Linked DNA regions of Homo sapiens: regions 1, 3, 4, 5, 6 and 7 are each reported to be linked to region 2. The links are microRNA targets in miRTarBase. Many come from high-throughput screens and were not tested one by one. Region 2 holds a microRNA gene; each other region holds the end of a gene's coding sequence.

Evidence for each region. Region 2 holds the annotated microRNA hsa-miR-302e (UAAGUGCUUCCAUGCUU, at 2,564-2,580, opposite strand). A microRNA usually pairs through its seed, bases 2 to 8, with sites in the 3' UTR of a target mRNA and lowers its output. Matches are read on the target gene's strand: a 7mer-m8 pairs with bases 2 to 8, a 7mer-A1 pairs with bases 2 to 7 and ends in A, and an 8mer does both.
Region 1: miRTarBase lists SNX5 as a target of hsa-miR-302e. Seed matches in the 3' UTR shown: 7mer-A1 at 492-498.
Region 3: the mRNA of RABGAP1L is a reported target of hsa-miR-302e. Seed matches in the 3' UTR shown: 7mer-m8 at 2,581-2,587.
Region 4: miRTarBase lists SUCO as a target of hsa-miR-302e. Seed matches in the 3' UTR shown: 7mer-m8 at 2,469-2,475.
Region 5: miRTarBase lists VAMP3 as a target of hsa-miR-302e. Seed matches in the 3' UTR shown: 7mer-A1 at 2,407-2,413.
Region 6: miRTarBase lists ZNF578 as a target of hsa-miR-302e. Seed matches in the 3' UTR shown: 7mer-m8 at 1,960-1,966 and 7mer-m8 at 1,665-1,671.
Region 7: the mRNA of HAS2 is a reported target of hsa-miR-302e. The part of its 3' UTR that is shown has no 7-base or 8-base seed match.

The regions. Positions count from the first base shown.
Region 1 is chr20:17,938,733-17,942,792 of GRCh38, reverse strand. It overlaps SNX5 (sorting nexin 5), which reads left to right. Exons shown (of 13, transcript NM_014426.4): 13 at 386-1,193. The coding sequence ends at 436. Among named protein-coding and RNA genes, the nearest start is that of SNORD17, 22 kb to the left of the region's middle. RefSeq lists enhancers at 1,709-2,300, 2,276-2,365, 2,396-2,485, 3,726-3,855, 3,488-4,060.
Region 2 is chr11:7,233,282-7,237,350 of GRCh38, reverse strand. It overlaps MIR302E (microRNA 302e), which reads right to left and starts at 2,585; the gene lies at 2,514-2,585.
Region 3 is chr1:174,989,609-174,993,677 of GRCh38, forward strand. RABGAP1L (RAB GTPase activating protein 1 like) reads left to right here. Exons shown (of 26, transcript NM_001366446.1): 26 at 241-4,069. The coding sequence ends at 393. Among named protein-coding and RNA genes, the nearest start is that of CACYBP, 8.3 kb to the right of the region's middle.
Region 4 is chr1:172,609,886-172,613,954 of GRCh38, reverse strand. SUCO (SUN domain containing ossification factor) reads right to left here. Exons shown (of 24, transcript NM_014283.5): 24 at 2,122-4,069. The coding sequence ends at 3,696. It also overlaps the pseudogene RNU6-693P. Among named protein-coding and RNA genes, the nearest start is that of FASLG, 47 kb to the left of the region's middle.
Region 5 is chr1:7,778,969-7,783,029 of GRCh38, forward strand. VAMP3 (vesicle associated membrane protein 3) reads left to right here. Exons shown (of 5, transcript NM_004781.4): 5 at 658-2,464. The coding sequence ends at 677. Among named protein-coding and RNA genes, the nearest start is that of PER3, 3.3 kb to the right of the region's middle.
Region 6 is chr19:52,511,378-52,515,446 of GRCh38, reverse strand. It overlaps ZNF578 (zinc finger protein 578), which reads right to left. Exons shown (of 6, transcript NM_001099694.2): 6 at 1-4,069. The coding sequence ends at 3,293. Among named protein-coding and RNA genes, the nearest start is that of ZNF808, 14 kb to the left of the region's middle.
Region 7 is chr8:121,610,414-121,614,471 of GRCh38, reverse strand. It overlaps HAS2 (hyaluronan synthase 2), which reads left to right. Exons shown (of 4, transcript NM_005328.3): 4 at 1-2,356. The coding sequence ends at 363. Among named protein-coding and RNA genes, the nearest start is that of HAS2, 29 kb to the left of the region's middle.

The sequences.
Region 1 (4,060 bases), not on the chromosome of region 2:
AGCTAAAGCTCCCAGCCCTAATTTCTAGCAACTTTTATTCAATCTTTCCAAGGCCCTTGCCTTCATGGAACAACGCACTGATAGTGTCTTAAGAAGTTACAGTAAGCAGGATCACATTTAGGAGCAAGCAGGTGAGGGCAGAGGTGCTGGAGTGAACGTCGGCTCTTTGGCTGGTAGCCTTACCCACTGAGGGAGAGGAGCTGAAACATGAAATGGGGATGCGTGGTACGTTGCAGTTCACCTGGGATTTGATGAAGAGAAGGGCCAGCTTGCTCTGGCTGACTTTAAACCTCCCGTGAAAAGCCGTGTTGGTGTACTTGAGTCATTCCAGGTATATGGCAAGTTTTAATAATTCACTGGTCTGCCTTGCCTTTTTTCCCCACAGAACAATGTCTCCCTTTTGCAGAGCTGTATTGACTTGTTCAAGAATAACTGATATGCCTTCACTCAGAAGAAAAGAAATGAATGTGAAAGAAAGCCAAGCATCACTTGCACTTAAATCATTACCACGGAAGATATATTAGCTTCAACTTTAGTTTAAAATTATGTGAATAAATATTTTGATTTCTACAAATCTTAACATTTAACCATGTTGGTTTAAAAATATTATTGCTTGCTACTTGGACATAACTAATTTTTCCTTGTGCATTTAATACCTCTGGGCAGAATCCAAATACTGGGTTCTCCCGTAGTTCGTCTTTAGTTACTAAGAAAGGGTGTAGGACACATTAGCCTTCTGGAAACAAGTAGAAGCCATCACCTGGCCCATGTCCCTACAAACCCATGATTGTCAGGGAGGTGCCAGTTACAGCAGGTGATTCAGCTACTTGAGGTCGGTAACAGACCTTCCATTCCTCACTGAAGGTGGGGTTTGTGTTTTTGTTTTGCCCTGTTACTCCACTGGTAGTCATCTGGTGTTTGTACTATAACAACAGCAAGAAAATCTCATTTATCTTTATATACTCTTTGCACCTCCTTTTTTTAGTCGAGATATAAATATTTGAGGGGAGAGAAATATCTACAGGTATATATGGAAACAAATAATGTGGTCTGCTTTATAAGATGGCCAGATCTACATTAGGAAAAGTATAAGCCCCCTCCCTAATGGCCGCTGGGGGGTGAGGGCGGTGTGTTGTATGTCTTTGGGTGTTTGTTTTTTTATAAAGCATATAATAAAATAATCGTGCTACTAATGTACGGCCTGTTTTCGTGGAAACTACAACCAGAGTGTGTCCCAGGAGTGCAGGTGGTGCTAGGGTTTGGCTGTGGTTACAGGGTTTTCAGGTTCTGCCCAGAGTCCTGGGGGCGGTCAGGGGAAATTTGTCCTAGTCTTGACATTCTTAAGTACTCCAGGCCTTTTTTAGATGGTCTCTAAATGTGGGTTTGTCTGTTTGCTCCTGACCTGATGGAGGTTTGCATTTTGGCCAGGGCCTTTACCATAGGGCAGTGGTCCCCAGTCTCAGGTCCATGGCTTGTTAGGAAGAGGTGAGCCAGCATTGCCGCCTGAGGTTCGCCTCCTGTCAGATTAGCAGCAGCATTAGATTCTCATAGGAGTGCAAACCCAGTATTGTGAACTGGGCATGCAACAGGTCTAGGTTGTGCGCTCCTTAGGAGAATCAAATGCCTGATGATCTGATGTGGAATGGTTTCATCTGGAAGCCATCCCTTTCCACACCCCACCTTGTCCATGGAAAAATTGTCTTCCACGAAACCACTCCCTGGTGCCAATGACATGTCTTCAGGAGTTGTGTGTCTATTCCTTTGTTGATGACTGAGCACTTAGGGTGGTAATCTCCTTTACCTTTCTAATAAGTAATTCATGGTAAGACCATGAGACTAAAAACATTTTACCCACCACATTTAGCATCTGTTACAGCCAACTGGTATGAGGGTTGCAGAACTGATTTCAATACATACAGGGAGCATGTTTCTTAACATTTATCTGGTCTTCGTGTCTTGCCTCCCCAGCTATTTACAGGCGGCCACAGTGCCTTCTACCTTCACAGTACATACTTGGGAAACGGTGCACAAAATGAGTGAATTTAAACTTGGCAGTTGTAACTTCAGTCTGGGCTCCTAACCAAATCTGTCCTTCCTACCCATCTCCCCCATAATGTCCACAGCAGCCACCCACACACGCCCAGCATTCTGTTAGTGTAGAGCCAGCACTCCTGCAGTCAGGTTCCTGGGCCGCAGTGCTTGAGCACCAGTGTGATCAGCCCTGATTGGTGGAGCTCTGGCTGTTGGCCTCGGGGCCTTGGTGCATTTTCTTGAGACTAAACCTTGTCAAATGGACAGCAGAGGCATGAATCTTGAGTGCTGGGTCTGCTGCTCACCAAGTGATCTAGGCTGCCTCTCTCAGCTGACTGATCTGTGAGCTGGAGTCAGCACTTCAGAGGCCCCTCAAATTAGTTTTATGCCAGCAATCTCTAATACAGCCTTCATGGATGGTATGATTGTAGATGTTTTACCTGCTGTATTTGTTCCAAGGCTTTTCATTAAATTGCACCTGACAGTCACTTAGGAAATTTGAGGCACTCTGGGTCAGGGATGTAGTCACCTTTCCCCTTCTGTCAGTCACCTAGTGAGTTGCTACCTTTACCTGTATGTGAGGGTGCATTCATAGTGGTCTGGGGTGGGGGGATGGGTTTAGATGCTGACTGCGACCTGTGTGGTGTGCTGAGACCTGGAAAGGCAGGCAGGCACTTGGCAGCAGGAGGAACAGCATCAGGTGGGAATCCACAGCTATCTTGCTGGAGTGCAGGAGAGCATAGGTCCCACATTGAGAAATGGGAATTTGGGTCACTTCAGGGTGATGTGTGGAGAGGCTTTTGCTGTGTGCTTGTATGGTTCTGAGAACTAGTGATCCTCCAGGAAAACCCATGTGGGTGCACAATTCATAGGGAACCCTTGAAGGTTTCTAGAAATGGGAATGGGAAGTGGTTTCAGATGGGCTGCCTTAAGGCATCCAGGCCAAAAAGGCTGTGACTTGCCCAAGGCACGGCTGAGAAAGTTGCCTCGTGGCACACGCAAAACTGCACAGTTCACATGTCATACGATTTCATTAAAAGCTAGGATCCAGCCTGAGAAACAGCGCAACCGTGTCTACAAAAAATGCTAACCTACAGTGGTGGCATACACCTGGAGGGCTGAGGTGGTGGGAGGACTGCTTGTGCCCAGGAGTTCAAGGCTGTAGTAAGTTAAAATCACACCACTGTACTCCAGACTAGACAACAGGGACAACTGCCATCCACCTCCCCTCTCCCCGCCCTCCCCCACTCTGAAAAGCAAAATTAGGAGATTGTCACGAGGAAGGAAAGCACACCCCTGGTCTGTGAAGCCGTTGAGGTCATGTCAGACCACTGGGGTCGTTTGTGGTGACAGAGCACAAGCATTTGGCCAGTTCACCACCCAACACATTCACTTGTGCCATCTCAGGGTTTAGGGGTCTGTTTTCTGAACATTTGCCTTGCGCACCTTTTCTTTGTGAGGTTTCTTTGTGGTAATTCCCAGGCTCAGCTCTGTGAAGGGCGATTTCCGTTTGGAAGGAAACCTTGCACCATCCGCTTTCTGCCTGTAGGCGGCAGGGGCGACCCAGCACAGCCACCTGCCCACCCACAGCTGAGCAGGAGCCTGGTATCCCCGCAGAGCTGCTCAGATTATCAGCTTATAGCTAAGGTAGCAGGAAGAGAAATGTCAGGCTACTTGAGAGTTAAGTAGTTCTGAATGGTGTTTTCCCAGACCAGCAGTCCCCTCCAGGATTCCTGCGGGCTTCAGGTTTCTGGTTACCCAAGACACAACCTCCATTGCTGAGGCCATGCTGTTCGAGAACTCCCCATCTGAGCCTGGTGTCAAAACAGTTGTGATGTTGATGGGGGTTCACAGCCAGGCCATGTGATGTGTCTGGAAGGAAGTTGGGGGTGGTGGACAACATTTGGGCAGTGATCAGTTATGTCCTTTAGACACAGCTGGGTCTGCAAGGTCCAGGGGACGCCCTTCCCCATCCACTCCTCGCACATACACAAGGTGCCCCTTGCGTGGGTGAGCTGCCCACAGTGAT
Region 2 (4,069 bases):
TTGTTTATTTGTTTTTGTTTTTGTTTTTGCTTACTCCCATCCCCCATTCCCTCTGACAACTAGTATGTTCACTCCCTGAGGCTAGGGACCTTGTCTGCCATGTTCATCACCAAGAATCCAGCATCTAAGACAGTGCCTGACACATAGGAGGTGTCCAGTGAATAACTGTTAAATGAAAGAAGGTGGATAGTGAAGGGCAACACTCAGATCCAGATGGGATAGGGTACTCATGAGAGCATGGGTCAAGAGCTTAGCAAACATGTAAGAACCATGCTGCTCTTTTCTTTTCTCTGGGCATAAAGTAGTTGCTCAGTAATTCAGCCAAGCAAGTTTGTAGACAACAACTTGCCCAGTATTTGACAAAGAGCAGTTTTGTTTTGTTTTGTTTTTAAAAATGCTTGTCTGATGATTGAGTGACCTGGTGTAATTTCAAGAAAAACCCTTAGGAGAAATATATCAAAACCTTTCAATGATTTTGTCTGCAAACATGAAGATTCAAAAGCACCTGAGGAGCCTAACCTTTTCCTGCTGGCTGAAATGAAAATGCATTACCCTTTTATGTAAAATTATAAAGCAACTGAGTTTAAAATGGAGAAGAAGACAGAAGGGCTTAGAAACAGGTCTATAATTTTACGCCAAGTTTAAAATATCTTACCTCGAATTTGTATCCAAGATTTAGGTCTTTACTACCTGTGCTATCTGGTGTAATGAATGGCGACCTTGGCCAAGAGGAATTCCCTGGACTGTTGTCTTTGATCCTTTCCGATCACTTAAGGCTGATGAGTTGAGCACCTCCTGGCTAAATATGGCCTTATCAGTCACTGTGCGCTCCTTAAATGTATAAGGTCAGGTTCTTACCTGTGGGGCATCACATCCCTGAAGGAAGGACAGACAGGCAGATGCCTAGTTAAAGCACAGAGCCATGTAAAAGTTTTTTATAAAATTATAAAACAATGCAAAGGGATGGAGAGAGTAATTCTCTCTAGAAGAACTGGTCTATTATTTGATCATGTGGCCATAAGAAATTTACTTACTATGTCTGGATAGCAGTATTTCAATGGCAAAATAGCATGTTTGACAAGGCAGGACACTTTTTGGGCTCTAATAGTCTAACGTTGAAGTTAGATTAGCTGGTTTCATATGTATTAGTCTCATCTTCCCTACTAGACTATCATCGGGTAGGGATAATATCTCAATCATCTCTCTATCCCAGGGCCCAGAGGGCACTGCCTGTGACTGTAGTAGGCATCCATTGAGTGCACATTGATTGGTTGACTAAAATTCATCTTTCTATCTTACTCTAATATCTTAGAATCTAGTAGAATTCAGCACTCCAAATTGATAGGCTTCAAACAATGGAGTTTAAAGGTATATATAAATGCCTGCAGAGAGCTATTTCTAGCCTAATGCCTTATTTTTGTGAATCTTGATGAAGGGCTCGAAGAGGGCTCTGCACCTCAATTTTACTTTGACAGAAATCTATCTGAAAAGTTTCCTCTTCTGAACTGATCTAAGCCCCTCACCCCTCCATGATCCTCCCTGAGTCTTAACACCTTAGACCTGTGAACATTAATGTAAATGTGTATCTTGAAGGTGTGTCTACATGTGAGAATTTTGTGTGTGTATGCATGCAAGTTGTCTGAGTCTCTCTGAGTGTGTGCTTGTGTGTTTTCTCCATTGAGAGCAAGTTGTCTATGCCCTGCAGAATTCCCAGCCCAACCTCAGAAACCAAAAGCCTTCCTCCAAGTTACAGAGTTTACGCCAGAGAACAAACATGGATGGAGCTCATGTTTCTTGCTTGTCAGTCCTAGGTCTTCATTCCTTATTCCTGGAGGAAGGAATCTATTCATGAAGGTTTAGATGGAGATAACCATGGAAAAGCTACCAGTCTCAGTGTTGTTGGGTTTTGTTTTTGTTTTTGTTTTTGAGTATTAAAAGATAGCAAGCAAGTTTGACTTTTTCTACTGAATAGATGATGTTCTGTCTGTCAGAAAGACTGGTGCCTGGAAAGTTTTTTGCAGACACTTGCTTTAAGTTTATGACTTGCTTTGCTCCCACAGGAGCAAGAAAATGAACCATTTGTTTTTCAAAACACACACACACATAGAACTATAAAATAAAAATTGATGGCCGAATAAGCTGCCCCCCACCCAAGTTTAATTCATACCTGTCTGAGTGTCTGTACAATTTAAGCACTAAGGTATAAGTGGGTCCAAGTCTAGGCTTCCAGAGACTATCCCATGAATATTAATATTAGTCTGGGATTTCCAGCGAACACAAAGTAGCCCAATGTTACACCACTAACACCGTTTCTGGGTCAGGATGACTCCTGAGGCAAAAGAAACTTCTATGCACTGGAGAAGCTTCAGGTTCCTTTTCTTGCCCCCCATCACCCCCACCTTCCCCCAGCACTTGCTGTTTTATTACAGAATTAGTGGGAAGGAGACCATTTGTGGAGCTGTTGCTGTTCTAAGCACTTTACAAATAATAACTCATTGATTCCTCAAAATAATTCTATAAGGTAGGTGCTATTACTACATCCATCTTACCAGTAAGGAAACTGAAGCATGGAAGCACTTACCCAAGGTGAAACAGCCAATAATTAGGAGAGCCAGGTTTCAAACCCAGGCAGTCTGCCTAGAGACTCTATTAACTGTGAAACCACACTATCTGATGGACCAAACCTCTGTGGCAGGCAGATTCCAGAAATGGACTTGTAATGTCAATATTAAATAAAATCACAGTTTTAAATAGAACAAAACTTTGGCAATTATGTATTTTAAGATTAATTAATTTTAAGGATTATAACAAGGCAAATATAAAAATGGAAAACATTGAGAACTTGTTGTAACAGCCCATGGACTATGATTTTTTTAAATGTACTAATAAGAGCAAGGAAACTTCAACGATTTCTCTTCTTTTATCCTCTCATCTTGATATCTCTGGATACAATGCTCCACCATCTGTCCATATATGCCTCAGCTATGTTGAATCCCAGGAATGGAATTCCTTAAAAGCATACATAAAAAGACCTCTGTAGTCTGTTTTGTGTGGTTGGAGGGGAGAGTGACTCCTCTGTATCCTCTGGTAGGTGAAAGCCCTGGACCGCGTAGCATCCTTTGTTAGTGATTTTACTTGAAATCTACCTTCAGGAGCTCTTTTAGGGCAGGCCTGGTGGTGACAAAGAAGACATTTATGCAGCCAAAAAACACATGAAGAAATGCTCATCATCACTGGCCATCAGAGAAATGCAAATCAAAACCACTATGAGATATCATCTCACACCAGTTAGAATGGCAATCATTAAAAAGTCAGGAAACAACAGGTGCTGGAGAGGATGTGGAGAAATAGGAACACTTTTACACTGTTGGTGGGACTGTAAACTAGTTCAACCATTGTGGAAGTCAGTGTGGCGATTCCTCAGGGATCTAGAACTAGAAATACCATTTGACCCAGCCATCCCATTACTGGGTATATACCCAAAGGACTATAAATCATGCTGCTATAAAGACACATGCACACGTATGTTTATTGCGGCACTATTCACAATAGCAAAGACTTGGAACCAACCCAAATGTCCAACAATGATAGACTGGATTAAGAAAATGTGGCACATATACACCATGGAATACTATGCAGCCATAAAAAATGATGAGTTCATGTCCTTTGTAGGGACATGGATGAAATTGGAAACCATCACTCTCAGTAAACTATCGCAAGAACAAAAAACCAAACACCGCATATTCTCACGCATAGGTGGGAATTGAACAATGAGATCACATGGACACAGGAAGGGGAATATCACACTCTGGGGACTGTGGTGGGGTCGGGGGAGGGATAGCATTGGGAGATATACCTAATGTTAGATGACACGTTAGTGGGTGCAGCGCACCAGCATGGCACATGTATACATATGTAACTAACCTGCACAATGTGCACATGTACCCTAAAACTTAGAGTATAATAAAAAAAAAAAAATTTTTACAACTGCACAAATTTTGATAAAAATGAGTTAAAAAAAAAAAAAAAAAAAAAAGAAATCTACCAGACTTTTTAACCAATATTCCTA
Region 3 (4,069 bases), not on the chromosome of region 2:
AAGAATAAAATGAGCTTTTCTTTCACTGTTTAAAGAAAGCACAGATTCTAGATTTTTGATAAGTCTTTTAGCTCTTAACTTTATCCTTGTACTAAGAAGCCAATTCAATCTCTCCTGGGTTTTGTGGGAGGAAAATTGGCAGCACATACCTTGAGACTCCAAAAAGCTGCACACTTTTATTTATTTATTGGCAAAGAGAAAACATTTATTTAACTCAGATGATTTTCTTGCTTTAATTAGGAACTTGAACATCAGAGAGGAGCCCTTATGAATGAAATCCAAGCTGCGAAAAACTCTTGGTTTAGCAAAACCCTGAACTCTATCAAAACGGCCACGGGCACCCAGCCATTGCAGCCAGCACCGGTCACCCAGCCACCCAAGGAGAGCACATAGTTCCAGCCTTACCCAAGCACAAGAGCACAATGTTCAAACCAATGGAAATCTGGGAGGATTCTTCCTGGTGTCCCTTTGAAGGAAAGTCAAGGAGGCCAGAAAACAAGCCAGAATTTTTCAGTAGCTCTCACTCTTTCTTGTATGACACTTTTCAAAGGGATGCTATTTAAACTGACCTGTTCTATGTTGAATACCTATTTTCCAGCTTCTGGAAGGCCATGTTCAGATCCATCATAGTATTACACATTATTTTGTTTGCCTGATGTTTAGTTGGAAATAAGTAATTCAGAACTAAATGCTTTTTTATTTAGAATTATTCATAATTATTTTTATCTTACATAAAAATGGAGACATCTGTTATTCCAAGGTTGAAGTGATAAGAAGATCTTTGTCACAGGAAAAAAAAAATTGAAACCTAAACATCTTAAGTTTTCAGGATTTATTCAGATAAAGCACACTGTGGGGCCAGGCATGACCACTCTCAGGTTTCCTCCTGAGCCTGATTCCCAGGGAAGTGTTAATCCTGTCCAAAGGAAAGAACCAATCAGCGATCATTGGTTTACTTTCATTTTCTGTTCGGTACATCTGGAAATGAAGTGCCAGGAATAGACGGGCTGTTCAGATTATACGCTAGGTAAAAGGAACTGAAATTTTAATAAGTGTAGGTCAGGATCATTTGGGCTGTGGTATTCTAACAGATCCTTTTAAGAATGCCACATAGGACTTGTGAGTTCCTAAGTACACCAAAGTATGGACACAGATGTGACTTCTGGCAATTATAAAGTTAAAGGTGGATATTGCACCTTACAGACTTAGGGAGCCTTTACCAGAGACGCCTAAAAAGCCCCAGGTTCAGCCATTGTGCTGAATAGAGTGGAATATAGAACCAGGGACAGAGTATTTCATTTAACGTTGATATATACTTGCTAAGGAAACACTAACAATACTGTAACTTTGTTAAAGGACATAGTATTGAAATGGGAAATAGAGGTCAGGCTCACATCATCTTAGTTTAATGCTGGGCAACTTTTTCTGATTTCTGTAGTTCCCTGAAAATGTGTCCTTCGTACCCATAAAGAGATACAAATGCATTTGTAACATTTTTGATTGAATATAAAACCTTTACAGAAATACTTATCTCATGGAAAGGTAAAGCTATTGTTTAAAAATTAGTGGAAATATTTTTTCAATTATATTTAACATGCCTATAAAAATAGTCCTTGCAGGAAATTATTTGATAAGAGCAAAACTATTTTTATTTTATAAACTATTTTGGAGGCCTCTGATCCTTTCAAACCAACCAAACTACTATTAGATATGTACAATAACATTTGTTGATATTAATCATTGGCCTCATTGTTGAACATATTATTTGCAAAGAATCTTAAACTCTGTAGTGCCAGAATGATTCTCATCTGTGCCATATTTTGCAATTAAAAGTAACACACCCTTAGAAGAATCAAATAAGAGCCATCTACATCCCAGGAGGATGCACCAAGTTGCTCACAGTGGATCTTTTCCTCTAAAATGATCTTTTATGTTCTAAAAAGTGAAATCCCCTTTATCTGTGTTTATATTCTCTACAGCCCATAAAACTGATGTGATTGTTATGTTATACTCATCAGATAATACTTTTCTTACATAAATCTTTCATTGTTGTTCTGACATCTTTCATTACAAAATTTATTTTCTTAACAAAAAGGAACATAACCCAGCATTCCAAGTGTCTGTGTTGGCTTTAACATTCTCTACATGGTGGTCTAGATAAGCTAATTTTTTTTTTTTTTTTTTTGTAAAATGTAATAGCTAGAAAATGTTATCTTGGCGCTTGTTTTTGTAAATCATTTAGTATAGGCTGTTAGCTTTACTGGTACTTTACGCTTTGATTCCAAGAAGCCTTGTGCAGTTGCCTTATCAAATGGCCAGCTAAATTAAAGATGCTCTTTTGTGTTGTGAATTTCATAGTTCTGTACAGAGCTTGTTTCAATTTACAAAAATAAGTACATTCCACAGAATGCCTAAAGTGTGTAATTTTCTTTAAATAATAGTAGGTGAGGGAGAAACATAATGGCTCTAGGTCAATCCCTTATCTAAAGACCTTGTTCAACTTCATAGTCCCTTTCCTTTTAAAGAGGAGAAGAGAAAAATCCCCCCTGGCCAGGCATGGTGGCTCACATCTGTAATCCCAGCACTTTGGGAGGCTGAGGTGGGTGGATCACCTAAGGTCAGGAGTTTGAGACCAGCCTGGCCAACATGGTGAAACCCTATCTCTACTGCAAAATACAAAAATTAGCCGGGCTTGGTGGCGGGTGCCTGTAATCCCAGCTACTCGGGAGGTTGAGGCAGGAGAATCACTTGAACCCAGGAGGCAGAGGTTGCAGTGGGCCAAGATTACGGCATTACATTCCATCCAGCCTGGGCGACAAGAGCAAAATTCCGTCTCGAAAAATCACCAGGTACATACCTCTCAAGTTTGATAAGTCCATCTTTTGAGTTTTCTTTTAGCTCTTTCAAAAGATTACGAGGGCAATACATATTTTTTTTTTTTTTATTCTCCAGCCCCATATCATACTTGGGTATGCCTGTTGGTACCATAAGCCTAAACTCTCCTTCACTGCAATGCCTTTGAGTCAGTAGCAATAGTAAAGACTAGAAACAAAGAAAATTCAGAATTTGGTATGTGATATGATTGTTCATACAATATGTTATAATAGCAATATTCCAAACAATATGTCCTTCACTGTCTATTGTTGGAAAACTCATGCATCCCAGCATGAAGTAACTCCTAGTTTTAATTTTAGTTATTTTGAGATATATTTGAGAATTGCATCTCTTCTCTTGAATTTCACTTAGAAGAGATTAACCAGCCAAATATCCAGGAAAGTTTCAAAACATTCTAGTGTTTTTCATCCTTTGCTAGGATGCACTCTGTACAAAACATTCCTCTGAAAATCTAATATTTGCAGTATCTAAGAATTGATCATTTCTATTTTCATTAAATTCTGTGGAAAAAATTAAATGAATGAAATTCAACTTCATAATTCAGTTCATCAGCTTTTGTATCTTGAGAATCTAAACACGTCTTTAAATCTGAAAGAAACCAAGCTGGATTTTGCAGTGCATATGTTTGCTAGCTTCCCACATCCTGAACCATGTCAAAATTTGGTTTTATTTAGTTACATATAATTTAATGCAAAGAAATTCTGTTACTTAATGTTCTGTTTATTTATGAGTGCCTATCAGGAACACTAATAGGAATGCCATTCAACCAGTGTCTTCTGCCCCTCTCCCAGCTGTTAAATTAGTACTTCTTCATTGGCTTTCTGAAATGTCCTGAGTAAAGTAGAAAAGCAACCTTTGTATGGATGTGGGGATATTTAATAGTATGTATCTTGTTTCATTTTTTTCCTATGATGTATTAATATTTATTTTTCTCCAACCCCTGCTCCATTTTCTTAAAATATTTTCCAGTTAATAACTAGTTGCTTTATTTCCTAGCTGAAGTGAGAAAACCAACGGAAAACAATACAGATTTGGGCAGAGGAGATAGAGTTACATCTTTAAAGGAGTGAGCCAGTCACCCAGGAGAATCACATGTGTAACTGATGTAGGGGTTTAAGTCTTCATACTTTCACTAAAATCTGTCTACTAACTCTCCCACCAACCTTTGCATCAA
Region 4 (4,069 bases), not on the chromosome of region 2:
GTCGCCCAGGCTGGAGTGCAGTGGTGCGATCTCAGCTCACTGCAACCTCTGCCTCCTGGGTTCAAGGGATTCTCCCACCTCAGCCTCCCCAGTAGCTGGAATTACAGGTGTGCACCACCACACTTGGCTAATTTTTCTATTTTTAGTACAGACGGGGTTTCACCATGTTTGCAAGGCTGGTCTCGAACTCCTGACCTCAAATGATCCACCTGCCTCGGCCTCCCAAAATGCTGGGATTATAGGCGTGAGCCACCATACCCAGCCTGAAATATTAATTTTTAAAGTAATAGATTAAGTGGAGTGTAATGCGGAGGTTATTGCTCCAACAGGATATTTTAAAGAATGTGTTAACTATAAATACTCGTGGGTTGGGATAAAATTTCAGTGACAACATCAACACATTACTCAAAAAAGCTCTTCCTGCTCACTTGGGCAGCTCATCCACTAAAACTGGGATGATTCAGAGAAAGTAAGTATGGACCTTGCACAAGGACAATATTCAAAGTCAGGAAGTAGTCTATTTTTTTTAGACACTAAATAGACAATACAACCAAATGAACCTTGAATGGACCCTGGACCAAAATAAACAAATGAGGGTAACTGAAGAAATTTGACTATATACTGTGTATTAGATATTATGGAGTTATTAATTTTCTTACATATTATACGGGTATTATGGTCACATAAGTGAATGTCCTTACTTTAGGAAAAAATATGCTACAGTATTTAGGGGGAAAGGGTCATAATGTCCCAACTTGCTTACAAATGGCTCACCAAAAGATGTTTCTTTATATATATACACATAACACACATACATATCTTTATACATACATATATACATATAATACACATATACATATAAAACACATACACATGAAGAAAACTAAAAAGATTAGCAACTGGTGAATCTGGGCAAAGGCACATGGTGTTCAACTTATCTACAGATTTGAAATTTTTTAAATCAATCAGTTGAAGAAAAGCAGTACTTCTAAGTTGTCCTGTTGTGTGATTTTGAATAGACTTATCCAATTACATTAACCAATATAAGTTTATATCTATCTCATGTTCATGCGTACAAGTTTGTATATTCAAACTGAGGACACATCTAAAAATGGAAAAATAAGCAGCAAGGTAAGGGAAGCACAATAACTGCAGACGGAATAAAAAATGTTTGCCACTGGGAAGCAAGAAATCTTTGGTAGAGAAAGATGGGTGGTACTGGTAGTGTGTGTGTGTGTGTGTGTGTGCGTTGTGTGTGAGTGAAATGGTACAGAATAGAGAACTGTTTTCTGTTCTTACTTTATAAGCCTTATAAAACTAATTTATCAAATTATATGTATGCATAACTTTTTTTTTTTGAGACAGTCTCACTCTGCCACCCAGGCTGGAGTGCAGTGGTGCAATCTCAGCTCACTGCAACCTGTCTGCCTCCCAGGTTCAAGCAATTCTCCTGCCTCAGCCTCCTGAGTAGCTGGGACTACAGGCATGTGCTACCATGCCCGGCTACTTTTTTTTAATTTTTATTAGAGACGGGTTTTCACCATGTTGGTCAGGCTGGTCTCGAACTCCTCAAATGATCCCCTGCCTCGGCCTCCCAAAGTGTTAGGATTATAGGCGTGAGCCACAACTTTAATGTTTTTAAAAATTCAATTAAAAGAATTGTTTTACTTTGCATCCTTGTTCTTACCAATTCCCTAGTTTCCTTTTATTTCATACTGTTTTAATGCTTTACTTAACATTAGAAGAAATAAAATGAGGTTGATCATCAGGGAACACTAAAAATCCCATTGGATAAATATCTATATAGTTTTTGCTTCTTAATAGGCATAAATCTATTATTTTCACTTAAGTTTTTTTTCTCATGTAGTTATGTGAGAGAGGAAAAAATAAACCTCATGTTACAAAATGTTATGCTGTATTTAGATATGAAAAACTGAAATTCTGATAGCATAGGGAGCAAAATGTTTATGTAAAAGTACCATCATTTTGTAGTTGGCTGAAATGTGATCAATATTGAATGGAATGCTGCTATATTTAACTTTAAAAGTGGCAAAAACTTAAATCTCTGTTCAAAGATTAATAATTTCTGAGTTCTCTTTTAAAAGACAGAAGAGCCAGTAATTAATAAAGACAAGTGTTCAGATTTATTTGGAAATTCACAGTTTCTAATGGCACTACAGCTCCGTAGTTACATATTGAAAATTCTCTTCCCACAACACACAGATCACATAATTTCTCACTGTATCTCTGCTCTCATCTGGACCTCTTTTCAAGGGGCTTCTATAAAATCAGGCCCTCTTGCTCTGAATAGCTAATTGTGCAGACAGGAAAGAAATTTAAATCTTCTAAAACACGCTGTTAACCTAAAGCAGCAACTTAAACAAACAAAAAAGGCGTTAAATAAGTCACATTACAAACAATACCCAAGAAAGGTATTAGGCAAGTTTAAAAACAGTTATCACTACTAAAAGTGCTCAATAAGTTATAACTTAAACATCACAACAATAAATGGTCAATTCTCTCCCTTTCAAAAAGAAACATGTTCCACTTTCATTCATTACTGTACAATCATACTAAGAAATCATTTTATTCAAATACAGTTGCTGCCAATTATTTTTTAAAGACAAAAAAAAAGACAGAGACATCGACATCACATATGTATTACCTCTGCACATTTGTAGCCAATACAAAGCAAACATCAAGGAATAATAATCTCTTTAGACTTAACCAATTAGATTAAGCTTGACAAACTCACTAACTGGATCTGTGCATATGTATGCAGGCAGTGATTATATCATGAGACTTGTACTAATTGGCCAAACCTTCAAATTTTATATTCATACTAATAAAAACAGTGAAAGTTTGGAGGATTAGTGTTTATTGTGTATGTTTAAAATGTAAGCTAAAGAAAACCTTCACAAATGGTTAAGTGTGTTTAAAAGGTGAATTTGTCAAAAATTTGTCTGCATATATCAGTTGTTTGCAAAAAAAGATCCTGTAGGGATTTTTCCTCATTGAGTTAGTAACTAAGTAAGAAGTAATCCAGTCTGAATAAGTGAAAATAACAAGAGCATCACCATCTACCTAACAGAACAGACTTAAAAATTCCATTAAGTGTTCATTTCCAGTGAGTTTGCTAAACAAAGATCCAGTTGGCAAGTTTTTAGGATCTTTAGACTGTCTGATCCACACTCCTGAGCTTCAGGCACAGACCCCCTCAAAGCATTGTAGTGTTTGCAGCTTCAAAAACCTAACAAAGTTATAAAAGAAATCAAATAACAGAAAAAGTTATCCCTCCTCTTCCAGTGGCATTATAAATAGACAAAAGGCACATAAATATGGGAAGGTGCAAGAAATAGGAACAAAGCTAAAGGAAGAGGTTTAGGCTTTCATTCCTATCCCACCTAAGGAACTGGGCTTCCAAATTACTTTTGTCCCAGTAATTAATCTTGTGAAAAAACATCTTTATAAAATGTCTACCATTGTCCTTATAGGAAGTGATCAGCTTTGTAAAACTGTAGCTCATTAACCAAGATTGACACAATCCCATCTACTTTTTAAAAAGGTAGAAACCATAATTTCTGAATGCCTTTCCCATTAATATTTTCTCCCTCCCCCAAACCCTTCAAATACTACAGACTGTTCTTCAAAGAACAACAACAAAAAAGTCTTCTGTATGAAAAGTTCAATTAATTTTAGATATGTCCCGAGACTGCTGTAACACCAAATGTTCCCACGGTGATCTCTTTGTTTCCTTTGATTATGTCATGCAGGCTCGGCAATGATCCCGACTTAGTCTGTATTAGAGTTTTTATCAATTTTCCTTGGTCTTGGACTTTAGATCGTCTTCGTTTTAAAGCCCTCTTCTCAGTTTTTGTCTTTTGAGACTGTCCATTGCACAGACTTGTGCAAGCTGAAATGCCACAAAAATAGGACTCTTCTGACTGTGATGAAGTTTCTGAGCTTCCTTCAGATGGAGGACCTTTATAAGAAGAGTGATAAACTTCTCCCATATTAGAAAAATCTCTCTGGTTCGTAAAGGGCTTTCTTCCTTTTATGTCGCCATTGG
Region 5 (4,061 bases), not on the chromosome of region 2:
GCAGATCACGAGGTCAGGAGATCAAGACCATCCTGGCTAACACGGTGAAACCCCGTCTCTACTAAAAATACAAAAAATTAGCCGGGTGTGGTCGCGGGCGCCTGTAGTCCCAGCTACTGGGGAGGCTGAGGCAGGAGAATGGCATGAACCCGGGAGGCGGAGCTTGCAGTGAGCCAAGATCATGCCACTGCACTCCAGCCTAGGTGACAGAGCAAGTCTCCGTCTCAAAAAAATAAATAAATAAAATAAATAAAAATTGCTTAGGTTGGTGCCTGGCATATAATAATAAAAATAATAGCTATATAAATAATATATATGTATACACAAACACACACACAACTATTATTATATAATATTCAAACAACTCACTGCCATCGGTAGCCCAGTATATGAGAACCGAAACATGACTTCTTTCATTGATAGATGGATGTTAGTGGATGTTTCCTTTTAGCAGGAAGGTACAGTTACTTGGATCCTTTTGACTCTAGTCTCCTTCCTCTAGCCCTCTATAGAATGGAGAGAAGCCAGTAGTAGGAAATCAGCCCAGTCTAATTTCTGATCACATTTAGACTGCAGCATTGGATGTTGGCTTGGGATTCACACTGAGAGACTAACCTGCTGTTTCCCCTGCCTTTTTGCATCTCTCCTCCTTCTTAGTGTGGGTTGTCTCTTCATGAAGAACCAGCGGAACTCAAAACTGCTGTTCAAGAAACCTCTTCAAGACTTTTGACTTAGAACCTGCTATATTATCAAGCTTACCTACTGTTATCTCTAAAATTTTTTTTGTGTTAATGTAAAGTTGAATTTCTAGGAAACGTGCCTTTGTTTTTTAATATGCACTCCAAATTAGAAGGCCGGCCCCGTCCACATTTTGCACAGTGCCTTTACAGATTTACGTATGGGCTGATGAAGAGGCCTTCTTAAGTTCCAGAGTGCTATAATCTAGATGTAATGTTGTCACTAATTAATTGCCATTACTCCCAGTTAGTTACCCTTGTCATTTGGCATTATTTTCAGAACCACATTTTAAACCTTTGGGTAATCAGATTTCCAACTTATGCCTTCCAGAAAAAAACACTACTGCCTAACACAAATCTGTGATAACAACAGGCTGTGCCTTATTTTGATAATTTTCTGATTCCCTAGAAGAGAACCCTCTACTTTTTGTAAGCACTACTGACTCTCGCTGTATTTAAGATGCTGGTGAAGAGCTTTTGCTCTTGCATTAGATTTGAAGATGTTTACATTGTTGTTATTGTTATGTATCACTTGCTAAAAATATTGTTTTAATCAGAGATAACCTCTTTAAAAAAATTTTTAAAGAACTATGGCTATGACCAAAGCTTCTATTTTGCCAAAAAGTTAAATACCGATAAAATGGCCTTAAGTGTATTCCTGACAGTTAAATTCAGAAACGTGCCAAATGGAACTCAAGGTGCCCCTTCAGAATTAAAATCATTACCTTGTGTGTGAACCTTCTACATCTTCATAGGCCTTTCTTCCTTTTGAAAGGCTGTAGACAGTGTGGCTCCCCTTCTGATTCAGTATTTTGCATGGGGGTTAGAGAAGGTTTGAGGTAGACTCTGACCGTCTCATAAAAGAGTTCTACCCAGCAGTTGGCAGATTATCAGCTGTGGACTCCAGCATGTTTCTGATAATTATGCAAGCAACAATTCTGTAGCCTCAAGTAAGACCACCTGTGAACTTGATCATTATCTGGCCCAAATATGAAGATAAACTATAACTTTGGAGTTTGTTTCCTATTTGTATTCACATTCTGCTTCCTAAATCAGTTTTCTAAATTATGCCTGCAATTAGGCATTGGTCAGGGGTGAATGGCTCTTTTCACAGAGAGTAGCCAACCAGAGACCTTTGCTTTGATATCATCAACTGCAGAGAATGCTGTTGATGGGAATGCTGGAAGCAGAAACTTTGTCATCGGAAAAACTTTTCTTGTATGCATGAGACTCAACATCAGGATCCACAGCTTAAAGATGGGAATTCAGGTATGAAAGAAAACAGGCAAGGAGGCACTGAGGGAGAAAGACACAGACTTTATCGCTCTGTGGCTCATTGTTACTGGAATATTCTAAAACTCTTGTTCACATGCTATTATGACTTATAAAGCAGCAACAGCTGAGGCGCACCAGGACACAGCTTCCATTTCTTTAACGTCTGTTCCCTTAACATCGCTGAAATGATTTACTGTTGAAGAGATGCCTTGCGGTGTGGCCAGCTGTGAGGAGAAAGCAGCTGGCAGTGTTAGGACATTAGTCCACCTTCAGCGCAGGGTCTCTGGCCGGGTCTGACTCAGAAACCTTGGTACTCGCCCCTTGGCCACAGTGCCCAGACCCATGTAACCCACTGGCTCCTGCATTAACCCAGAAATACCTCGCTTCTATCTGTGCACTTAGCTGGGAACTTACCCACTGTAATCACCTAAATAAAGTGTTTATAAACATGATTGTGGCACCTGTGCTCCTTGTAGAGGAATAGCTGCACCTGGTCCGAGTCCTAAAAATGCCATTCCTTGCTGCTCCCCATACCTGTCCCTTAGAAGCCCCGAAACTGTCTCCCCCTTTTCTCACCAGCCCCTCTCTAGGTACTCTACCCTTTTGGTACCCAGCATTTCCGCATACCCCAGTGAACAGAAGAAAACCGCTCCCCTTGTGAAAAGTGCTTTTTAGTATAGGCGATGAGGAGGAAACTGGCTTTTACACAATTACCAAAATTCAGGATGTGGCTTTGGAGTTCCCTAAATAGATGGTCTTTCTAAAGTGATGTGCAGAGCCGACCCCGTCTGTGGTAGACTAGATGGCTGCTGGCATGGACCCTGGGATAGATGAGTGGATAGGTGAGGGACATCCCCAGACACATGGCTCTGTTCCTGTAGATCCTTTTTTCCTCATGAATGTATTTCCATTCTTATCGTAGAACCCCTAGGAAACAATATAATACGGGTGGAAGAGGACTTTTGCTTATGTTTACAATAGGAAAATCCAAGTCCCTTTCCCGAATTACAGGTCCCACGATGATCTGGTCCTTTCTAGTTTTCTGACTTCATGTCACACGACTCTCCAGCTCTCTCTTCTCCAAGCAAGGTACTCCACCAAAGTATAGCTGTTGACATCGGAGAGACTTGTGCCCATGAGACTTTCAACATCAGGGTGTGGCTTGAAGGCCAGAGTTAGCTATGAATGAAAACAGGCAAGGAAGCCCTGAGGGAGAAATGGACCTGATAAAGTTTGTTTCGGTTTCTCATCAGCAAACTGACTTCTTTCCAAAGGTCTTCTGCAGGTACTTTCAGCTCTGCCGGGTCTACTTCCTCACCCGCGGCAGGCGCCTCTCATCTCAGGTTGAAATCCGCCTTCCCCACTCGCGGCAGGCGCCTCTCATCTCAGGTTGAAATCCGCCTTCCCAGAGGCCTGCCCTGCTGATCTGACTAAGCAGGCTCTGGCCTCCCCACTCCACCTTTCTCCCAGTTACTCTTCCTTCCAGTAGTTTGTTTTCTACACATCGCTTTAGGCTTTATGAACTTGTTTATGGGGTTGTTTGTATGGCTTTCTCAATAAAACGTCAACTCCCTGGGTGGCAGGGACTTTGGGCCACTGTTCTATCCGCTGGGATTCCAAGCGTCCCTACCCAGATCTGCACGCAATAAATGCTTGCTGAACGAATGCAGTTTGACAAAACCCAGCTTCGGAGGAGAGCAAGCCAACCTAGAGTATCGCTTGGAAGATATAAGGTGGTTTATTCAATACCTAACATGAACACTCACCTCACTTTTCCCCTCTTCCTTTACATACAATTTCATCCATCCAACAAATACTGAATATTTTTTCTGTACCAGGCAGCGAAGAGGGGCGGCACTCTGCACTGTACCTTTCATTTCTAACATGTTGAGATACTAAACTGAGCTTTCAGACATTTTTTTTAAAGGGCTCTACAACTTCTTTTCTGAAACAGAGTGTCTTTTACGTTTGTCTTCCTCCAGTTGCCAAATGAATCTAATTTTAGGAAGTGCAGGGAAGTGTTTTAAGTTCCACCGTCAAAATTCTGTT
Region 6 (4,069 bases), not on the chromosome of region 2:
TTCTTTTGCAAGGTTCTGATGACATTGATTCCTGACAGTTAATTCTTCCTTACAAAAAACTCACAGGAACATTTATAAAATGCAGAAGTGTGAACACACAGCTATTGACCTTGGAAACAGTGAAAGAGGGTCAGCTGTAGAACTAAGAAATAAGCAAATTATTTCAATCAAGAATACATGAGTGGTCAGGCACAATGGCTCACGCTTGTAATCCTAGCATTTTGGGAGGTCGAGGTGGGCAGATCACCTGAAGTCAGGAGTTCAAGACCAGCCTGCCAACATGATGAAACCCTGTCTCTACTAAAAATGCAAAAAATGAGCCGGGAGTGGTGGAGGGCACCTGTAATCCCAACTACTCAGTAGGATGAGGCAGGAGAAATCACTTGAACCCAGGAGGAAGACATTGGAGTGACACCAGATCGCACCATTGCACTCCAGCCTCAGCAACAAAAGCAAAACTCCATCTAAAAAAAAAAAAAAAAAAGAGTCTCGACGTGGTAGCTCATGCCTGTAATCCCATCACAGTGGGAGGCTGAGTCGGGTGGATCGCGAGGTCAGGAGTTTGAGACCAGCCTGACAAACATGGTGAAACCCTGTCTCTACTAAAAATACAAAAACTAGCTGGGTGTGCTGGTGGGTGCCTGTAATTCCAGCTCCTCAGGAGACTGAGGCAGGAGCATCACTTGATCCAAGGAGGTAGAGGTTGCAGTGAGCTGAGATCGCACCACTGCACTCCATCCAAGCTGACAGAGCGAGACTCCATTTCCAAAAAAGAAAAGAATACATGGGTGCTTTTGGAGCAGCGCTCTATGCCACTCCAGCCCATGTTTCAACATTTTTCCAGAATGGACCACAGGGCCTTGAGGGAAACACACAATAAATAGCTCCCAGCTCAAGATTTTAAAAAATGACATAAGGAAAGAAAACTGAAAAACAGACTAACTGCTTAAACTACATTTTGATGTTTATTTAAAAGGTCACTGACATCTTTACCAAGTACACACTGCAACAATCAAACTTAAGTAGTAGGTACCACAGCCTTCCAATAAATAACAAAGACTAGAAAGCATGCAGACCTCGATCTGAACTGGATGCAACTAATTTCAAACAGCAACTCTTTTGAAATTGTTGTAGGAAAAAAATCTCACGAATTTTGGGGTCAACCGGAAAACAACTGGAAAATATACAAGTACAGAAACGAATGATGTGAGCTGATTACAGGATGCTGCAAAGGCATCTTTCAGAAGTCATTATGTGTTAAGAAATAAAACTATTAAAACTAAGATATATCTCAAACTCAATCTGCAAAAAAGAAAAAATAAATAGAGAACTGAAGAGGAACCAGAAGGAAAAAAAAGGGAAGTCTATGACACAACGAGAACAAAAGCATTTTTGATGTCTGTTTTTTTCATTTGTTTGTTTGAGATGGAGACTCACTCTGCCAACCTCGCTGCAGTACAGTGGCACGGTTTTGATTCGCTGTAACCTCTACCTCCCAGGTTTAAGTGATTCTCATGCCTCAGTGTCCCAAGTAGCTGGAACTAAAGGTGCACACCCCCACCCCTGGCTAACTTTTGTATTTTTAGTAGAGATGGGGTTTCACCATGTTAGCCAGGGTGCTCTTGAACTCTGATCTTAGATGATCCACTCACTTCAGTCTTCCAAAGTGCTGTGGGATGAGACACCCCGGGTTTGATATCTTTTTTTTTTTTTTTTTGAGACAGACTCTCACTCTGTCGCCCAGCCTGGAGTGCAGTGGCACGATCTCGGCTCCCTGCAAGCACCGCCTCCTGGGTTCACACCATTGTCCAGCCTCAGCCCCCTGAGTAGCTGAGACTACAGGTGCCCACCACCATGCCCGGCTAAGTTTTTGTATTTTTAGTAGAGACGAGGTTTCACCGTGTTAGCCAGGACGGTCTCAATCTCCTGACTTTGTTATCTGCCTGCCTTGGCCTCCCAAAGTGCTGGGATTACCGGCGTGAGCTGCCACACCCAGCCTGATATCCCTTTTAAAACTACTATGGTATATCCCTTTAAAAAAGTACTATCTCAAAAAAGTACTATCTCTTTAAAAAGTACTATCTCAAAAAAAAAAAAAAAAAAAAAAAAGGAAAAGAAGAAACAATGCCAGGCGCGGTGGCATATGCCTGTAATCTCATCACTTTGGGAGGCTGAGGTGGGCGGATCACCTGAGATCGGGAGTTTGAGACCAGCCTGACCAACATGGAGAAACCCTTTCCCTACTAAAAATACAAAAAATTAGCCAGGCGTCGTGGCATATACCTGTAATCCCAGCAACTAGGGAGGCTGAGGCAGAGGAATCGCTTGAACCCAGGAGGCGGAGGTTGCTGTGAGTCAAGATCGCACCATTGCACTCTAGCCTGGGCAGCAAGAGCAACACTCCATCTCAAAAAATAATAATAAACAGGCTGGGAAAACTGGCTCACATCTCTTGGCCATGCTTGTTTCAAACTCTTGACCTCAAGTGACCTATGTGCCTTGGCCTCCCAATGTGCTGGGATTACAGGCGTGATCCACTGCACCTGGCCCAATCCTCTTATCATAAACACCTGCATGTCAATTAAGGCTTGAACTCAATGTTAAGTCAACACAAACTCAAGTCAATGCTGAATTGACTCCAATGTCAATTAATGCTTGATGGTTTGCTATACTCACTGCATTGGGAACAGTTATCTCAAAAATGAATTTTCTGATGTTCTGCAAGGAGTGACCTCGGACTGAAGACCTTGCCACACTGATGACATTTGTAAGATTTCTCTCCAGTAGGGATTCTCTGATGTCTAATGAGGTGTGAACATGAAGTAAAGGCTTTGCAACACTCATCACACTTGTGACATTTCTCTCCTGCATGAATTCTCCTATGTTTTGCATAGGATGAAGCTTGACTGAAGACCTTGCCACAGTCATGACATTTGTAAGGTTTCTCTCCAGTATGAGTTCACTGATGAACTGCAAGGTATGAACGATGTCTGAAAAATTTGCCACATTTATTACACTCGGAAGATCTCTCTTCATTATGGATTCTCCAATGATTTGCAATCGTTGTAGCGTTACTGAAGACTTTGTGACAATCATTACATTAGTCAAGTTTCCCTACACCATGAATGGCCTGATGGTAAGTGTTGACTGGTCACTAAAGGCTTTGCCACACTCATTACACTTGTAAGGTTTCTCTCCAGTATGAATTCTCCTATGTCTTTTAAGGCGTGATCTGTGACTGAAAACTTTGTCACATGCTTCACATTTGTAAGGTTTCTCTCCAGTATGAAGTCTATGATGACATGCAAGGCTTGATTGATGAATCAATCAAGTGATTGTGAGCCTTACCACACTCATTACACTTGTAAGGTTTCTCTCCGCTATGAATTCTAGTATGGTTTGCCAGATAAGAATGGCACATGAAAGCCTTGTCACAAACCTTACATTTGTAAGGTTTCTCTCCAGTATGAAGTCTATGATGACGTGAAAGGTGTGACTGTACATTAAAAGTCTTCCCACATTCATTACACTTGTAAGGTTTCTCACCACTATGAAGTCTACGATGGCATGGAAGAGATGACCTGTGACTGAAGGTCTTGTGACACTCATTACACTTGTAAGGTTTCTCTCCAGTATGAATTATCTTGTGTCTCTCAAGGTTTGATTTCTGACTGAAAACTCTGTCACATTCTTCACATTTGTAAGATTTCTCTCCAGTATGAAGTCTATGATGACGTGCAAGGCTTGACTGATGAATAAAAGCCTTACCACAGTCATTACACTTGTAAGGTTTCTCTCCAGTATGAAGTCTATGATGACGTGAAAGGTGTGATTGTTGATTAAAAGCCTTGCCACATTCATTACACTTGTAAGGTTTCTCTCCAGTATGAATTGCCTTATGAATTACAAGGGTTGAATTTTGACCAAACATCTTGCCACACTCATTACACTTGTAAGGTTTTATTCCAGTATGAAGTCTACGATGGCATCTAAGGGATGACTTGTAACTGAAGGACTTTCCACATTCATTACACTTGTAAGGTTTCTCACCAGTGTGACACCTATGATG
Region 7 (4,058 bases), not on the chromosome of region 2:
ATGGTCTTCATGTCTCTCTACTCAGTGTTATACATGTCGAGTTTACTTCCCGCCAAGATGTTTGCAATTGCAACAATAAACAAAGCTGGGTGGGGCACATCAGGAAGGAAAACCATTGTTGTTAATTTCATAGGACTCATTCCAGTATCAGTTTGGTTTACAATCCTCCTGGGTGGTGTGATTTTCACCATTTATAAGGAGTCTAAAAGGCCATTTTCAGAATCCAAACAGACAGTTCTAATTGTTGGAACGTTGCTCTATGCATGCTATTGGGTCATGCTTTTGACGCTGTATGTAGTTCTCATCAATAAGTGTGGCAGGCGGAAGAAGGGACAACAATATGACATGGTGCTTGATGTATGATCTTCCATGTTTTGACGTTTGCAGTCACACACAACACCTTAGTTCCTCTAGGGGCTGTACAGTATTGTGGCATCAGATAATGCCACCAAAGGAGACATATCACTGCTGCTGGGACTTGAACAAAGACATTTATATGGGTTTATTTTCATTCTGCCAAAGTAAAACAATACATCAACAAGAAGAAACTCAGATTTAACCTGTTATTTCTATGAAAATGGGATGAATTCTTTGTTTATGCACTTTTTCCTTACTGTGCATCCGCCTGAAAGTGTTTTGCCCTATATACCTCACTAGCCATGCTTTATGTGGGTTATCATGGAAGAAAAGGATTTTGGAAACTCAAGGAAAAGTTCTTTCAACCTATACAACCTAACTTATGGACTGTTTTGATAGATGATAATTTTTTTTTTTTAGGAAGGATTTTCTTTTTAACTTTACCAAATGAAATGCCAAAGGAAGTTTTAAAGGCCGTTGGCTGTGCTGTATTTTGATATAATTGTACTGTGTTTTTAAATTTTGTATGCCAATCTTAAAGACAAATTTTGCATATTCTCTATTTTACTTTTCTGCCAAAATAAACCTGTTCTTCCTTTTTTAAAATAAAATAAGTTCTTAAAAAATTTATACTTAAAAAATCCTGCCCAAAATGTGAAGCTTGGTTGACTGATGTTCATGATAGAAAGAATAAAATGTTTCTCTCTCTCTACCTTTTAAAATTGAATAGTTTATTTCTGTGAAAGAAGTATTTAAACTTTCAATATTTTAACTTTTTGTTTTTATTTCTTTTAGAAAAGGCCAATATACCTATCACACTTTGGAAGTAAAAATACACACTTTCGTGTGTACCTAAAAAAAAAATCGTTGAAAATCAAGGCCAAAGGTAGTGCAATTTTTTCATTAAGATTTAAAAAAAAGGGAATGATAGTCTTTGAAAGAAAACAGTAGGCATCCAGCACTGGACAAAACATGGGTATCAAAGATGAATAATCTTTGGAGATTCTGGCAGTGTTTTCCCAGAACAAGTCAAGTGGAAAGTGGAGAAATTATCTGTATAATTTTGGACACATACAATGCAGTTTATCAAAGGTTTTGTTCTGTGGCCTGAATTTACTGGGTCCTACCTACACATTGAACATGTTTTGCCTGTCTTTTTTTTTTTTTTCAACTTGCCAGTTCACTTTACATGTTAGTATAATGTTTACACGGGTGAGTTGGATAAATTATAAAACATATAAATTCAAAATTGGCAGATAGAATCACCAAGTATCTATCCTCTTTTACTTTCAAATGAGGAATTTTGTTTTTCTGAATTACACAGATCATCACTTCCTATTTCCTGTTCTGGACCTGTATAAAAATGTCTACACAGTAGAAGTGACATCAAGGTTTAATAAGTATATCAATGATTGGCACATATAAAAATTGTTGAACCACATACTCTGAACTTGGCTAATTTAGTTACTGCAAGGCCTCCATTATCCAGTTTTATTTTTTACACGATTGACCTTGCCTTGTAGCTGGTGCTGTGTAGACCTGTGTTGAAAACACAATCGGAATATATGAATAATTGAATAAACAGCATTATGGTGAGGCAGAGACACATGGAGAAGTGTTAAAAAAAAAATGGGCTTCCTGCCTTTCTGCCTCTTTTTTATGCAGTCATCTATGTTACATCTATCCTGCCTAAGAAAAAGCTGCACATCCTACCTTCAGAGTACAAAAAGGTACATCTGAGACTCAAGACTCTCACTGATTGGAGAGCTTGTGGAAAACAAAACACACCATGCCAATAAATGAGATGAAAACTTGAGTTTGCCTTTTTAACTATTTATGTTCTAAGTTAAGCTTTGATAACATTCAAATGTCAAATTCTCTCATTCTTATAAAAAGTTGAATTAATTGCCTGTATTTATTTTAGCAATTATTCAATGTATTTCCAGTATAGGATGTATAGTATAATTAATTTTTTGTAAATAAAATATTTTTGATAAGATTATTGCCTTTTTTTCTAAGGGAAGGGGGAACTTTGTTTTCCTGATTATAATGGTATGAATTTAGGAAGGGGGGGTTTTAAAAAAAATGATGGTTGGTAAAAAAGAATATGTCATTTAATGTTACTTATTATTAGGTAGAAATCCCTAAAACTGGTGTGGTTTGAAAATCTGGAAAACCACAGAGAGAGGAGAGAGACTGCTTAATTATCATTACCCTTGTCTATAATCTTTTTCTTCTGCTTCCCTTGAAAGCAGCACAAATTTAGACAATTTTTTAAATTATAGTAACTTATAGCAGGAAAAAAAATCAAAGATATGCAGAAATATGATAAGCAAGCTTGTTTATTTCAGCATTATTCAGAAATAATAAAACCTTAACCTAAAATCAAATGATGAGGGCAATAATTAAATAAATCATGGCATTTCTAAAAAATGGGACATCATTAGCTATTGAACACAATGTTCTCAGAGAACACGTGGATTTTGGAGAAATGTCACATTAAAAAAATAACCATTTTGTACAGTAACATCCCAATTTTATAAAAGTGAAGATGTTTAAACATGATTATCTCTAATACTGGGAATGACTGATTTATATTCTGTATATGTTTTTGTATTTTCCAAATACTATAAATATGTTTTTATAATCAGGAAAAAAAAGACAATAAATATCATCTTTTTAAAAAGTGGGTTGGGACATCTAACAGCATTTTCTGATTAGAGGAACTTTGATAGTAATTATCTCATTTTACCTCTTATCCCTCAAATTCATCTTATTTCCCAGTTCTTTTGTGTTATCTGTTTTCTAAGAATCCTTCATTACTTTTGTACTGCTACATTATAAACTATAGCCACTGAACATTATTGTCAGATAATCCAGAAATATTGATGGTTCTAAACTTAATAATTCACTGATGAAGTCACTTGGTGACAGTCTTTTAATGTAAAGAGCCTTAAAGTATACATTTTAGGACTGGGCATGGTAACACACGCCTGTAACTCCAGCAGTGTGGGAGGATTGCTTGAGGCCAGGATTTTGAGACTAGCCTGGGCAACATGGCAGGACCCAGTCTCTACAAACAATTTTTTTTTTTAATTAGCCAGGTGTGGGCGTTGCCTGTGGTCCCAGCTACTCAGAAGGCTGAAGTGGGAGGATTGCTTTAGCCCCAGAGGTCGAGGAGGCTACAGTGAGCTGTGTTTGCAGTACTGCACTGCAGTCTCGGCAACAAGAATGAGAACTTATCTCAAAAACAAAACAAAACAAAACAAAACAAAAAAAACCCCCACAAAACTATTCTTAATTCACCAGCATTACCAAAACAGGCAACAAGCCAGATATATCCTGCAGCCCATAGTTAATGACCCCTGCTCTTTAGAAATCTGTGGACTTATCTGTACCATTAAGTACTCACACTGACACCTAATTTTTGAGCACATACTATGTTTTAGGCACTACCAGAAGCATGCTTTATAGATTAGTTATTATGTCAGTCCCAAGAAGTTCCATTATTATTACCATTTTAAGCGAGGAAGCTGAGTGAAGTTTAAAGAAATTTGGTAACTTAATATTATAAAGCCAGTACATTGTAGTGGTGGAATTTAGGTCCAGACATTATGACATCAAGCTTGCCCCTTCAACTAATGCTACTCAGTATTTCATCCACTGTCCGGCAGCATCAGCAGCATGTGGGAATTTATTAG